Homo sapiens: one gene and its partners. The protein of the gene in region 1 interacts with the protein of each later gene in a biochemical or structural test. Each region holds a gene or a part of one and is shown on either strand. Other genes may lie near its edges.

The links.
Region 2: the proteins of BMPR1A (region 1) and BMP4 form a complex in vitro, tested with the Homo sapiens proteins (3 studies listed by BioGRID and IntAct, with this or other methods).
Region 3: the proteins of BMPR1A (region 1) and GDF6 form a complex in vitro, tested with the Homo sapiens proteins (one study listed by BioGRID).

Annotation. Positions count from the first base shown.
Region 1 is NC_000010.11:86,913,595-86,917,342, forward strand, and holds part of BMPR1A (bone morphogenetic protein receptor type-1A isoform 3 precursor), read left to right. Parts: intron 1-3,539; coding exon 3,540-3,732; intron 3,733-3,748. UniProt on the Homo sapiens protein: On ligand binding, forms a receptor complex consisting of two type II and two type I transmembrane serine/threonine kinases.
Region 2 is NC_000014.9:53,950,216-53,953,963, reverse strand, and holds part of BMP4 (bone morphogenetic protein 4 isoform a preproprotein), read left to right. Parts: intron 1-563; coding exon of another isoform or gene 564-688; intron 689-1,734; 5' UTR 1,735-1,741; coding exon 1,742-2,111; intron 2,112-3,075; coding exon 3,076-3,748.
Region 3 is NC_000008.11:96,159,066-96,162,813, reverse strand, and holds the start of GDF6 (growth/differentiation factor 6 preproprotein), read left to right. Parts: upstream 1-2,007; 5' UTR 2,008-2,121; coding exon 2,122-2,527; intron 2,528-3,748. UniProt on the Homo sapiens protein: Growth factor that controls proliferation and cellular differentiation in the retina and bone formation. Plays a key role in regulating apoptosis during retinal development.

The DNA of each region.
Region 1 (3,748 bases):
TACAGAGTCATTGTACAAATACCATTGAATTTATAGGCTCTAGCAACAAACAATTAGGTAATTATAAAAACAGTATTTAAAATAGCATCAAAAACCATGAAATATTTAGAATAAGCCTAACAATTTATGCAAGACCTGCACACTGAAAATTATAAAACATTGCTGAAAGAAATTAATAAAGCCCTAAATAAGTGGAGATGTTTATAAATCTGAGGACTCAGTATTAAGATTTCAGTTTTCCTCAAATTGGTGTGTAATTTCATTCGAATCCAAATGAAAATCAGAGCAAACTTTTATAGCAATTGATGTATATTCTAACATTTATATGGAAATGCAAAGGACTAGAAGAGCCAAAACAATTTTGAAGTAGAAGAACAAAGAGGAATCACTACCTGATTTCTGGACTTACCGTAAAACTCAATAATGATCTCAATTTGGTACTGGCATAAGGATAGATGTATTGATGAATGGAACAGATTATGGAGTTTAGAAAGGAACATGCACTTAATATGGTTAATTGATTAAAAAAAAAAAAACAAAAAGATGCCCAAGTAATTCAATTGGAAAAAGGCAGTCCATTTAACAGATGGTGCAGGAAATATCAGGAATCCATTTACCAAGAAGTTAATCTCAGTCCTTACCTCCTCACTCTATACCAAATTAACTTGAAATGTAGCATAGACCTAAATGTAAAAGTTGAAGTATAAAACCTCTAAAAGAAAATGTCTGAAAAAATTATTCTGACCTTGGGCAGACTTCTTCAGTACATAAAAAACACAAATCATTTTTTTAATGATAAATCAGGCTTTATCAAAATTTAAAACTTCTGCTATTTAGAAGACAAGAAAATGAGAAGACAAGTCACAGATTGGCAAAACAGATCTGATACAGGGTTTTTGTGCAAAATATATAAAGACCTTTTGCAACTCAATAATAAGATAACCCAATTTTTTTAAAAAATGGACAAAAGATTTGAACAGACACTTCCCCAAAGAAGATATAAGAATGGCAAACAAGCACATGAAAAGATGCTCAGCATCAGCAGGGATATACAAATTAAACACAGTAAGATACTACTGCACATCCACTAGTATAGCTAAGACTGATAATATTAAGTGGTGCCAAAGATGTAGATCAACTAGAAATCTCATACATTGCTGGTTGGAATGCAAAATGGTATGGCTATTTTGAAAAATAGTTTGACAATTGCCTGGAAAGTTAAGGGCATACTTTCCGTACAATGAAGCAATCCTTCTGCTAATTATTTACCCAAGAGATATGAAAACTTGTCCACACCAGAGGCCTGAATGTGAATGTTTATAGCAGTTTTATTTATAATAGACATAAACTGGAAACAACCCCAAAGCTCATGAATTGCTAAATGAATAAACAAATGCTGGTACATTCATACAGTGGAATATTACTCATCAGTAAAAAGGAACAACTTCTAACACATGTAGCAGCAACAGTGGGTGAATTTCAAAAGTACTTTATGCTACATGAAAGAAGCCAGACACAAAAGGCTACACAAAAGTGATTCTCCTGCCTCAGCCTCCCAAGTAGCTGGGATTAAGGCATGCACCACCATGCCCAGCTAATTTTTGTATTTTTTTTTAAGTAGAGACAGGGTTTCACCATGTTGGCCAGGCTGGTCTTGAACTCCTGACCTCAGGTGATCCACCCGCCTCGGCCTCCCAAAGTGTTGGGATTACAGGCGTGAGCCACCACGCCTGGCCAAAAAGTGAGAATTTTTTTACGTTATTAAAATATTCTGTATCTTAATTGTGGTATTGGTGATTACATGATATAGATTTGTCCAAGGCTTGTTGAACTTTTCTCAAAAAGGGTACATTTTATATAAATTATACCTCAATAATCTTGACTTAAAAACTTACAGGCTGAGGCAGGCAGATCACTTGAGGTCAGGTGTTCGAGACCAGTCTGGCCAACATGGTGAAACCCTGTCTCTACTAAAAATACAAAAATTAGCTGGACGTGGTGGCAGATGCCTGTAATCCCAGCTGCTCGGGAGGCTGAGGCAGGAAATTGTTTTAACTGGGGAGGCAGAAGTTGCAGTGAGCTGAGATTGGCCGCCGCACTCCAGCCTGAGCAACGGAGCGAGACTCTGTCTCAAAAAAACAGAACAAAATTTACAAAAGGATTCTATAATAAATGATACATAAAGTCACTTTAGCTTTGCACTAAATCTAGTCCATTTTAGAAGCATTTCCAACTTGGAGCATAATGTTCTTTTTAATTTAGAATGATCACTAATGCTTCTGAAAATGAAAGATAACAATCCATGTACATCTTTTATTTAACAAATATTAAAGTACTTCTGATATTGTCCCAAATAAATACTTATATTCTGTGAGCAGGGGATGGAATTCAAGCAAATATATATGTAAATAAGAATAAAGTTATGATTGTGTTAAGCGCAGCAACTGAGAGGTTTTGTGTGCTATGAAGGTGTTTAAGTGAGAAAATAGCACTCTAAGTAAAGGGAACTGGATATTCAAAAAAACCCAGCGACAGGAATAAGCTTGAGTGAATTCTAAAAGTTGAGATAAGTCAAACGAGGTTTGTGGGTGGGTGGTCAAAGCAAATAATGGGACCAGGCCAGATCAGGCAGGGTCTTATAGATGGGATTTTTAAGATCTTTAACTGTTATTTGGACTTTGCTGCATAATAAACCACCCCAAAACTTAGTGATGTGAAGCAACAAACATTATTTCTCATTCTGTGAGTCTGTGGGGCAGTTCATTTGTTGGACTTGCTTAGCTAGAGCTAGGTGGTGTAGTTCACACCCTTGGCCGACAGTTCATGCTGCCATTATTTTTTGGTCACAGGGTTCCCAAAGCAGCAGGAAGGGGGCAAGCCCCAGTCCACAAACATTTGTCAGGTCTTTGCTTGCATCACGTTCGCTGTTGTTCTTTTATCCAAAGCAAGTCATGTGGCCTAAGCCCTGAGTCTGTGGACCAAGACTACCCACGACTGTGTGCACTGGGAGGGTAATTATTATGACCATTTTTGCAAACAGCCAGCCACTTGAATAACCTGTTTATGATTTCAGAATACATTGTACATTGTTTCATACTTTAAAGTACATTATGGCCGGGCATGGTGGCTCACGCCTGTAATCCCAGCATTATGGGAGGCCGGGGGTGGGGTGGATCACCTGAGGTCAGGAGTTCAAGACCAGCCTGGTCAACGTGGCTAAACCCCATCTCTACTAAAAATACAAAAAAATTAGCTGGGCATGGTGGCGGGTGTCTGTAATCCCAGCTACTTGGGAGGCTGAGGCAGGAGAATCACTTGAATCTAAAAGGTGAAGGTTGCAGTGAGCCGAGATCGCGCCACTGCACTCCATCCTGGGTGACAGAGCGAGACTCCATCTCAAAAAAAAAAAAGTACATTATAAGTTTTTAACTGGAGTTGGTTGGGTACACCATGCTTTTTGATGAGATGGACTACCCCTTTGCCAGTCTTAATGGGTTTCTTTCATCAAGAGCTCAAACCTTTTACTTTTTTCTATAAAGGTTCAGCGAACTATTGCCAAACAGATTCAGATGGTCCGGCAAGTTGGTAAAGGCCGATATGGAGAAGTATGGATGGGCAAATGGCGTGGCGAAAAAGTGGCGGTGAAAGTATTCTTTACCACTGAAGAAGCCAGCTGGTTTCGAGAAACAGAAATCTACCAAACTGTGCTAATGCGCCATGAAAACATACTTGGTGGGTACACACTGAT
Region 2 (3,748 bases), on another chromosome or scaffold:
GGAGCTCGTGTTTGCTTGTGTGTGTGTGGGGGGGTGTGTGTGTACACGCGCGTGGGCAGGGTCCCTCTGCGCTTTCCTTTTTAAGTGCCTCTCGGTGGTGAGGCTTTGGGCGGGTGAGACTTTCCCGACCTCGCTCCCGGCCCCACTTAAGCCGGGTTCGAGCTGGGAGACGCAGTCCCTTCAGTGCGCCCCAAATCCTCTGGCTTCAGGTGGCCCGGCGCGGGGGCCCAGCACGACGCACCGCGCCGAGAACCGGGTTCTCCGTGCGCTGCGCCAGTAGCCCTGGGAGCGCGGCGGCCGCGGGGCACCGGCCGAGGGCTCTGCCGAGCGCCGCCGGGAGCTCCTCCCGGACCGCTGAGGCTCGGGCGGCGGGCGCGGAGGTTGGCCTCGCCTGGAGGGGCGGGCCCGCGAGGGGCGGGGGGCTGTGGAGGAGGGGAGGGCGCGCAAGCCCTTTCGCCGCCTGCCGCGGGAGGGGCCTCGGCGCTCACGTGACTCCGAGGGGCTGGAAGAAAAACAGAGCCTGTCTGCGGTGGAGTCTCATTATATTCAAATATTCCTTTTAGGAGCCATTCCGTAGTGCCATCCCGAGCAACGCACTGCTGCAGCTTCCCTGAGCCTTTCCAGCAAGTTTGTTCAAGATTGGCTGTCAAGAATCATGGACTGTTATTATATGCCTTGTTTTCTGTCAGTGAGTAGACACCTCTTCCTTCCCCCTCCCCGGAATTCACTCTGCCCTCACCACCCCTGCTCGCCGGCTGTCCCTTCCGTCGGACCTCCTTTACAATATCCACACTCTGCTCCCTGGCAGCACTGTCGCTCCCTTCTTGGCCCGGCAGCCGGGGCGCTGGAAGCGTACGGGTTCCTTTTAAAGTGCTGCTAGCGCGCACTCGCCCTCTCAGCGTTGCAAGAAAGGGGAGCGCGAGGGAGCTAAAGAGATGAAAGCCCGGGGTTGTACCTTGAGGGCTAACCACTCCCTTCCCCTATCCAACTTGTCTGGGAGAGCCCCCAGTGTCTCCGTGGCGCGTTCCCACTCTCTTGTCAAAACTCACAGAGGTCTCTCCGGAATCGTCTCTCACCCCTTCCCTGGGGATGAGCGGGCACGATCAGGCACTTTTGGCTGAATATTTCAAACTCATCGGCCACAATAAAATAAGCCCTCAAGCCACCCGGTTAGCTCCCAGACCACCTTCTCGGCTTCTGGACCCTGTCGCCCTCTGTCTTCGCCCAGCCCCTGCCTCTCACTTTCCCTCCCTCTGGCTCTGAACCAACTGGAAGTTGTGAAAGTTGGGCTCTGAGGGTGGAGGAAAAGGGAGAGAAGCTGAAGGTCTAAAGTGGAGAGCAATGCCATTTTAATTCTCCCTCCCCCACCCCTTTTCACCCCCTCAATGTTAACTGTTTATCCTTCAAGAAGCCACGCTGAGATCATGGCCCAGATAGCAGTTAGGACAAAAAAAGATTAACAGGATGGAGGCTATCTGATTTGGGGTTATTTGACTGTAAACAAGTTAGACCAAGTAATTACAGGGCAATTCTTACTTTCAGGCCGTGCATGGCTGCAGCTGGTGGGTGGGCGGGTGGTGTGAGGGAGAAGACACAAACTTGATCTTTCTGACCTGCTTTCCATCTTGCCCCTCCATTTCTAGCCCTAAATGCATATGCAGACACATCTCTATTTCTCCCTATTTATTGGTGTTTATTTATTCTTTAACCTTCCACTCCCCTCCCCCTCCCCAGAGACACCATGATTCCTGGTAACCGAATGCTGATGGTCGTTTTATTATGCCAAGTCCTGCTAGGAGGCGCGAGCCATGCTAGTTTGATACCTGAGACGGGGAAGAAAAAAGTCGCCGAGATTCAGGGCCACGCGGGAGGACGCCGCTCAGGGCAGAGCCATGAGCTCCTGCGGGACTTCGAGGCGACACTTCTGCAGATGTTTGGGCTGCGCCGCCGCCCGCAGCCTAGCAAGAGTGCCGTCATTCCGGACTACATGCGGGATCTTTACCGGCTTCAGTCTGGGGAGGAGGAGGAAGAGCAGATCCACAGCACTGGTCTTGAGTATCCTGAGCGCCCGGCCAGCCGGGCCAACACCGTGAGGAGCTTCCACCACGAAGGTCAGTCTCTTCCCCCAGTCTGCGTGGGGGAGGGCTGGTGGGACTGGCTAGAGGGGCAGTGAAAGCCCTGGGGAAGAAGAGTTCGGGTTACATCAAAGCCCCAGTCCAGGAGGCTGAGGAACAGAGCTGCTTACCTCCAAGAATTTGCAGAGCTGCCGCCGAACTTATTTTTTGGAGACAGAGGGGGAGGTGTTCAGGGGAAGGGGAATGACAGCACTCAGACGTGGGCTAGCCCCAGCGGTGTGTTTTTGCTATATCAAAGCCTTTTCTGCTAGGTTTTCTGCCCGTTTTTTTCAAAGCACCTACTGAATTTAATATTACAGCTGTGTGTTTGTCGGGTTTATTCAATAGGGGCCTTGTAATCCGATCTGAATGTTTCCTAGCGGATGTTTCTTTTCCAAAGTAAATCTGAGTTATTAATCCACCAGCATCATTACTGTGTTGGAATTTATTTTCCCCTCTGTAACATGATCAACAAGGCATGCTCTGTGTTTCCAAGATCGCTGGGGAAATGTTTAGTAACATACTCAATAGTGGAAGAGGGAGAGGGTGGTTGTCTGCATGTTTCCTCCTGCCTGTGCTCTGTTGGCCCCTCTTTTTCTTTACAACCACTTGTAAAGAAAACTGTGGACACAAAGCCAAGGTGGGGGGTTTAAAAGAGGAGTCTGATTGTGGTGCCATAGAGGAGTTGACACATAGAAATTATTAGACATATCAAGGAGGCTGGATATAGTTTCTGTCTTTGGTGCTTGAGAAATGCTAGCTACATTTTGCTGGTTTGTTAGCTGCCCCACTTATCTGCTCCTTCAAATTAAGGGGTATGCTTATTTTCCCCCAGTAGGTTTCCCCTGCATAAGCAGAATTCACCATTCATTGCCCAACCCTGAGCTATCTCTTGACTCTTCCATCTTTGAAAAAAGTTCATATGCTTTTTCTTTTCCCCTTCCTTCCTAACTGTGCCTAGAACATCTGGAGAACATCCCAGGGACCAGTGAAAACTCTGCTTTTCGTTTCCTCTTTAACCTCAGCAGCATCCCTGAGAACGAGGTGATCTCCTCTGCAGAGCTTCGGCTCTTCCGGGAGCAGGTGGACCAGGGCCCTGATTGGGAAAGGGGCTTCCACCGTATAAACATTTATGAGGTTATGAAGCCCCCAGCAGAAGTGGTGCCTGGGCACCTCATCACACGACTACTGGACACGAGACTGGTCCACCACAATGTGACACGGTGGGAAACTTTTGATGTGAGCCCTGCGGTCCTTCGCTGGACCCGGGAGAAGCAGCCAAACTATGGGCTAGCCATTGAGGTGACTCACCTCCATCAGACTCGGACCCACCAGGGCCAGCATGTCAGGATTAGCCGATCGTTACCTCAAGGGAGTGGGAATTGGGCCCAGCTCCGGCCCCTCCTGGTCACCTTTGGCCATGATGGCCGGGGCCATGCCTTGACCCGACGCCGGAGGGCCAAGCGTAGCCCTAAGCATCACTCACAGCGGGCCAGGAAGAAGAATAAGAACTGCCGGCGCCACTCGCTCTATGTGGACTTCAGCGATGTGGGCTGGAATGACTGGATTGTGGCCCCACCAGGCTACCAGGCCTTCTACTGCCATGGGGACTGCCCCTTTCCACTGGCTGACCA
Region 3 (3,748 bases), on another chromosome or scaffold:
CCACGGAGACCAAGGGGAGAGCAGCCAAGCTCAATAGCCCAGTGATTAAGAGCCCAGACTCTGGAGTAGTGTGACCCTGGGCCTCACTTTCCCTATCTGTAAAATAGGAATAATACAGCACTTATTTCAGGATTGCTGTGAAGATTAAGTAAAATAATATTGGCGAAGGGCTTCAAACCATGACTGACACACAAGTTCTCTGTGGGTGCTTGCCATTACCTGGAGGAGGCCAGTGTCCAGGGTGGAGGGCATATCCCAGACCTTAAGGAAGTTAAAGGATGAGGGGAGCAGCGCAGCAAAACTCCCTCCCCCTGCAGGCTGTCATGTGAGTGGTCCCTGCAGGACAGAAGAGGTGATGAAAAAGCAAAAGGAAGAAGGGGTTAGAAAGTGAGAGGGAGGAGATTGGAGAGACTGGGAACACACACAGAAAGTAGCATGGCGGAGAAAGAAGCCACCTGAGATCAAGTGAAACCATAAAGAGAAGAAAAAAGCCAGAACTGAAATAGAGAAGTTGGGCCAGGAATGACTGTCTATGCTGTAGTGGGAAGAATCTTGGGCTTGGGGTGGGAGCCTGGGTTCTGTCCCTTGCTGCATAACCTCTTGGCAGAGTGGCCTTGGAAAAGTCACTTATTTCCATTGAGTCTTTTTTTTTTCCATCCGTGAAGGTGAAAATAGTCAACGCCAACCTCACAAAGCTGTTGGCACGATTAAAGGAGGGTACTTTATGGTTGGTGCCTGAGCACCCAATCAGTACTGAGGGAAACTCTTCTGCCCATAGCAGTCCAGGGCAGAGCACTGTGGCAGACAGAAGCAGCGCTACGCCGCATCGCCTTTCAGCGTGCAGGCCCAGGAATGAGCGAGGCAGTGGGCGGGGAAGACAGGCACGGGGAATCTGGGGACAGATAAAGGAAACTCGTGATGGGGCGAGGCTGGGCTGAAGAGAAACAGATTGGGGTAGAGCTGCAAAGGGAGGGGTCCACTGGAAGGCGAGGGGGGAGGCCGGGAAGAGAGAGGGTGGGAAGGCAGTGTGAGATGGGAGGGCAGTGTGAGAAGAAAAGCAGGCTGGGGAAGAGGGATTGGAATGCAGAAGGAACTTGGGGAAGGAGGAAGTCCTGCAGGCGGGAGGGAAAGAAGAGAGGGAAAATGGGGATGCAGTGGAGGCGGGGGGCAGGCCGCGAGAGGGAGAGGATCCCGGGAGCAGACGAAGAAGTGGAGCAGCTAAAGTCTGCGTCAGAAGAGGTTGGGGACTGCGAGAGGAGAGGCTGGGGCCTGCAGGGGAGCGCAGCAGCTTTTAGCATCGATCCAAACTCTAAAGACTCGTGGCCTTTGCCTGACCTCGAGGGTCGGGAATAGACGCCTGTCTTTGTGGAGAGCGATACCCAACCGAGAAAATGGGGCTGTTCCGAGCTGGGCCCTGCGCCTGGCCCAGGGCGAGGCTTCTCTGGCTCCGGGCTGGCCCCTGAGGGGCGCAAACGGCAGGCCTGGCGGTTGGGGCCGAGGAGGGAGGGTACCACCGCCCCGAGGCAGCACGCAGCCTGCAGCAGAGGCGCCTGCTCCAAGCTGTCTCTTGGGGGCGCCGCCGCCGCTTCCCTCCTCCGGGGCCGCTCGCTCCCAGGAAAGTGGAGGCGGCTGGCGAGGACCGAGAGCCGGGGCCGCGCTGCGGAGGGACCACACCTCCGGGAGTTCGAGGGGGACCCTGGCGCGGCGGGCCAGCCTTTGCTCCCCGGCCACGGGCCGGCAGCGCCCGCCTTCCCCCGGTCAGCGCTTGCGGCCCGCGCCGCGCGCACCGCCCGGCAACCCCGCGCGCGTCCCGCGGGGGCGCTGCGTCTTCCTGCCACACCGGCGCACCGCGGCCCCTCTCCCCCACACCTCCGGCCCGCACCACCCGGCTCTCCTCCCACCCTCCCCACCCCTCCTCTGCCCTCCCTCCCCATTCCTCCCCTCCCGGCGAGGGGCGGGAGGGGGCGTGGCGGGGCCGGGGTTTGTGTGGCTGGGACCCGGCTCCTCGCACTCCGAGTCCGCCCGAGGAGCCGGGCCCCGGCCGCTGTCCAGCCGCTCCGTGCCCCGCGCGTCCTGCGCCGCCGCCACCGCCTCCTGGGGAGACGCAGCCACTTGCCCGCCATGGATACTCCCAGGGTCCTGCTCTCGGCCGTCTTCCTCATCAGTTTTCTGTGGGATTTGCCCGGTTTCCAGCAGGCTTCCATCTCATCCTCCTCGTCGTCCGCCGAGCTGGGTTCCACCAAGGGCATGCGAAGCCGCAAGGAAGGCAAGATGCAGCGGGCGCCGCGCGACAGTGACGCGGGCCGGGAGGGCCAGGAACCACAGCCGCGGCCTCAGGACGAACCCCGGGCTCAGCAGCCCCGGGCGCAGGAGCCGCCAGGCAGGGGTCCGCGCGTGGTGCCCCACGAGTACATGCTGTCAATCTACAGGACTTACTCCATCGCTGAGAAGCTGGGCATCAATGCCAGCTTTTTCCAGTCTTCCAAGTCGGCTAATACGATCACCAGCTTTGTAGACAGGGGACTAGGTAAGTGGCAAAGAAAACGCTCGACTCCCCTCCCGCTGGAGCTCGGCAGCCAGGGAGCTGTTCCCGCTGGAGGCTACATTTGTGAATTCCCTTCCTGCTCTGGACACTTCCTTTTTACTTTTCTTAAATTGTTTTTCTCAAGCTCGAGTAAGTTTCTGAATGTGGCTGCGGATTCTATTCCAGTCTCTAAACCTCCCTTCCTTTCCCCCCCTTTCTTTCTCTCTCCCTTCTTTCCTTCTTCCTCTTTTGCAGAAGGCAGCGTGGTTGCCGCTTGTTGGTGGCTGGTGGGGGAAACGTGGAGGACGGGAGGCAGCAGGCGGATGAACCCGGCTGGAGAGGGGTCGGGATGGGGACTGATGGAATCGGTGTCTCGGGATACTGGGTTCGCAGTCCAAGGCCTGAGCTGCTGGGGCAGATCTAGGGCATGAGACAGCCTTGGAAAGCCCTGGGCAAAGCCGGCACTAGGGAGTCCCACAGTCTGAGGAACTAGTCCGCGAGCGGCGTCGGGCAGCCCCCTGGTCCTGGCGCCGCGCGGGTTTTCCGTTGGTCCCTGCGCTGGGTGGGATGGTCAGCCGGGCTGGAGCCCTGCGCCCTCCGGCTTTTTTGCTCCAGCGTGGTGCTCCCGGCTGCTCCGAGGCCTCAACACGAGTGGTTTCTGCAGATGCGGCGGCAGCAGTTGGGCGGGCCGGGACAGGGACGGCTAAGTTCGGAGGTTGTGGGTACTTAATACACAAAGGTACATGGGTATGCCCATCCACCTTTCTCAGCCAGGCGACGTTCCTCTCTCTACGCTATTCCTGAGGGCTGGTGGGGGTCTGGGAAATCCCTGGTACCCTCTGTGGGAACGCCTGCATGTGTGGGTGTCTGCGGAAACCCTTGCGGCCCCTTCTTGCCACCGGCGTTGATCTGCAGCGTGGCCAGTGCCCTCAAGAAAACCTCGCACCACCTCTGGTCCCAGAAATCAGGGAAGGATCCACAGGCATCGGAAACTAAGCTCCTAAAGGAGAGAGACAATAATGTGGAAGGAGACAGGAAAGGAAGGGAGAAAAAGGAAAGGAAGAGTAAAGAGAAGGAAGGAAGAAAATGACGGGATAAAAGCGATTTAGGCAGATATCCACTCCTCCATCCTCCCTAGACTTAGCTCCATGACTTTGACCTGCTCCCAGTTAAGTGGGGTTGCCCGGAAACCTTGCAGCGCTGGGGTTCGGGATTCGGAAGCTG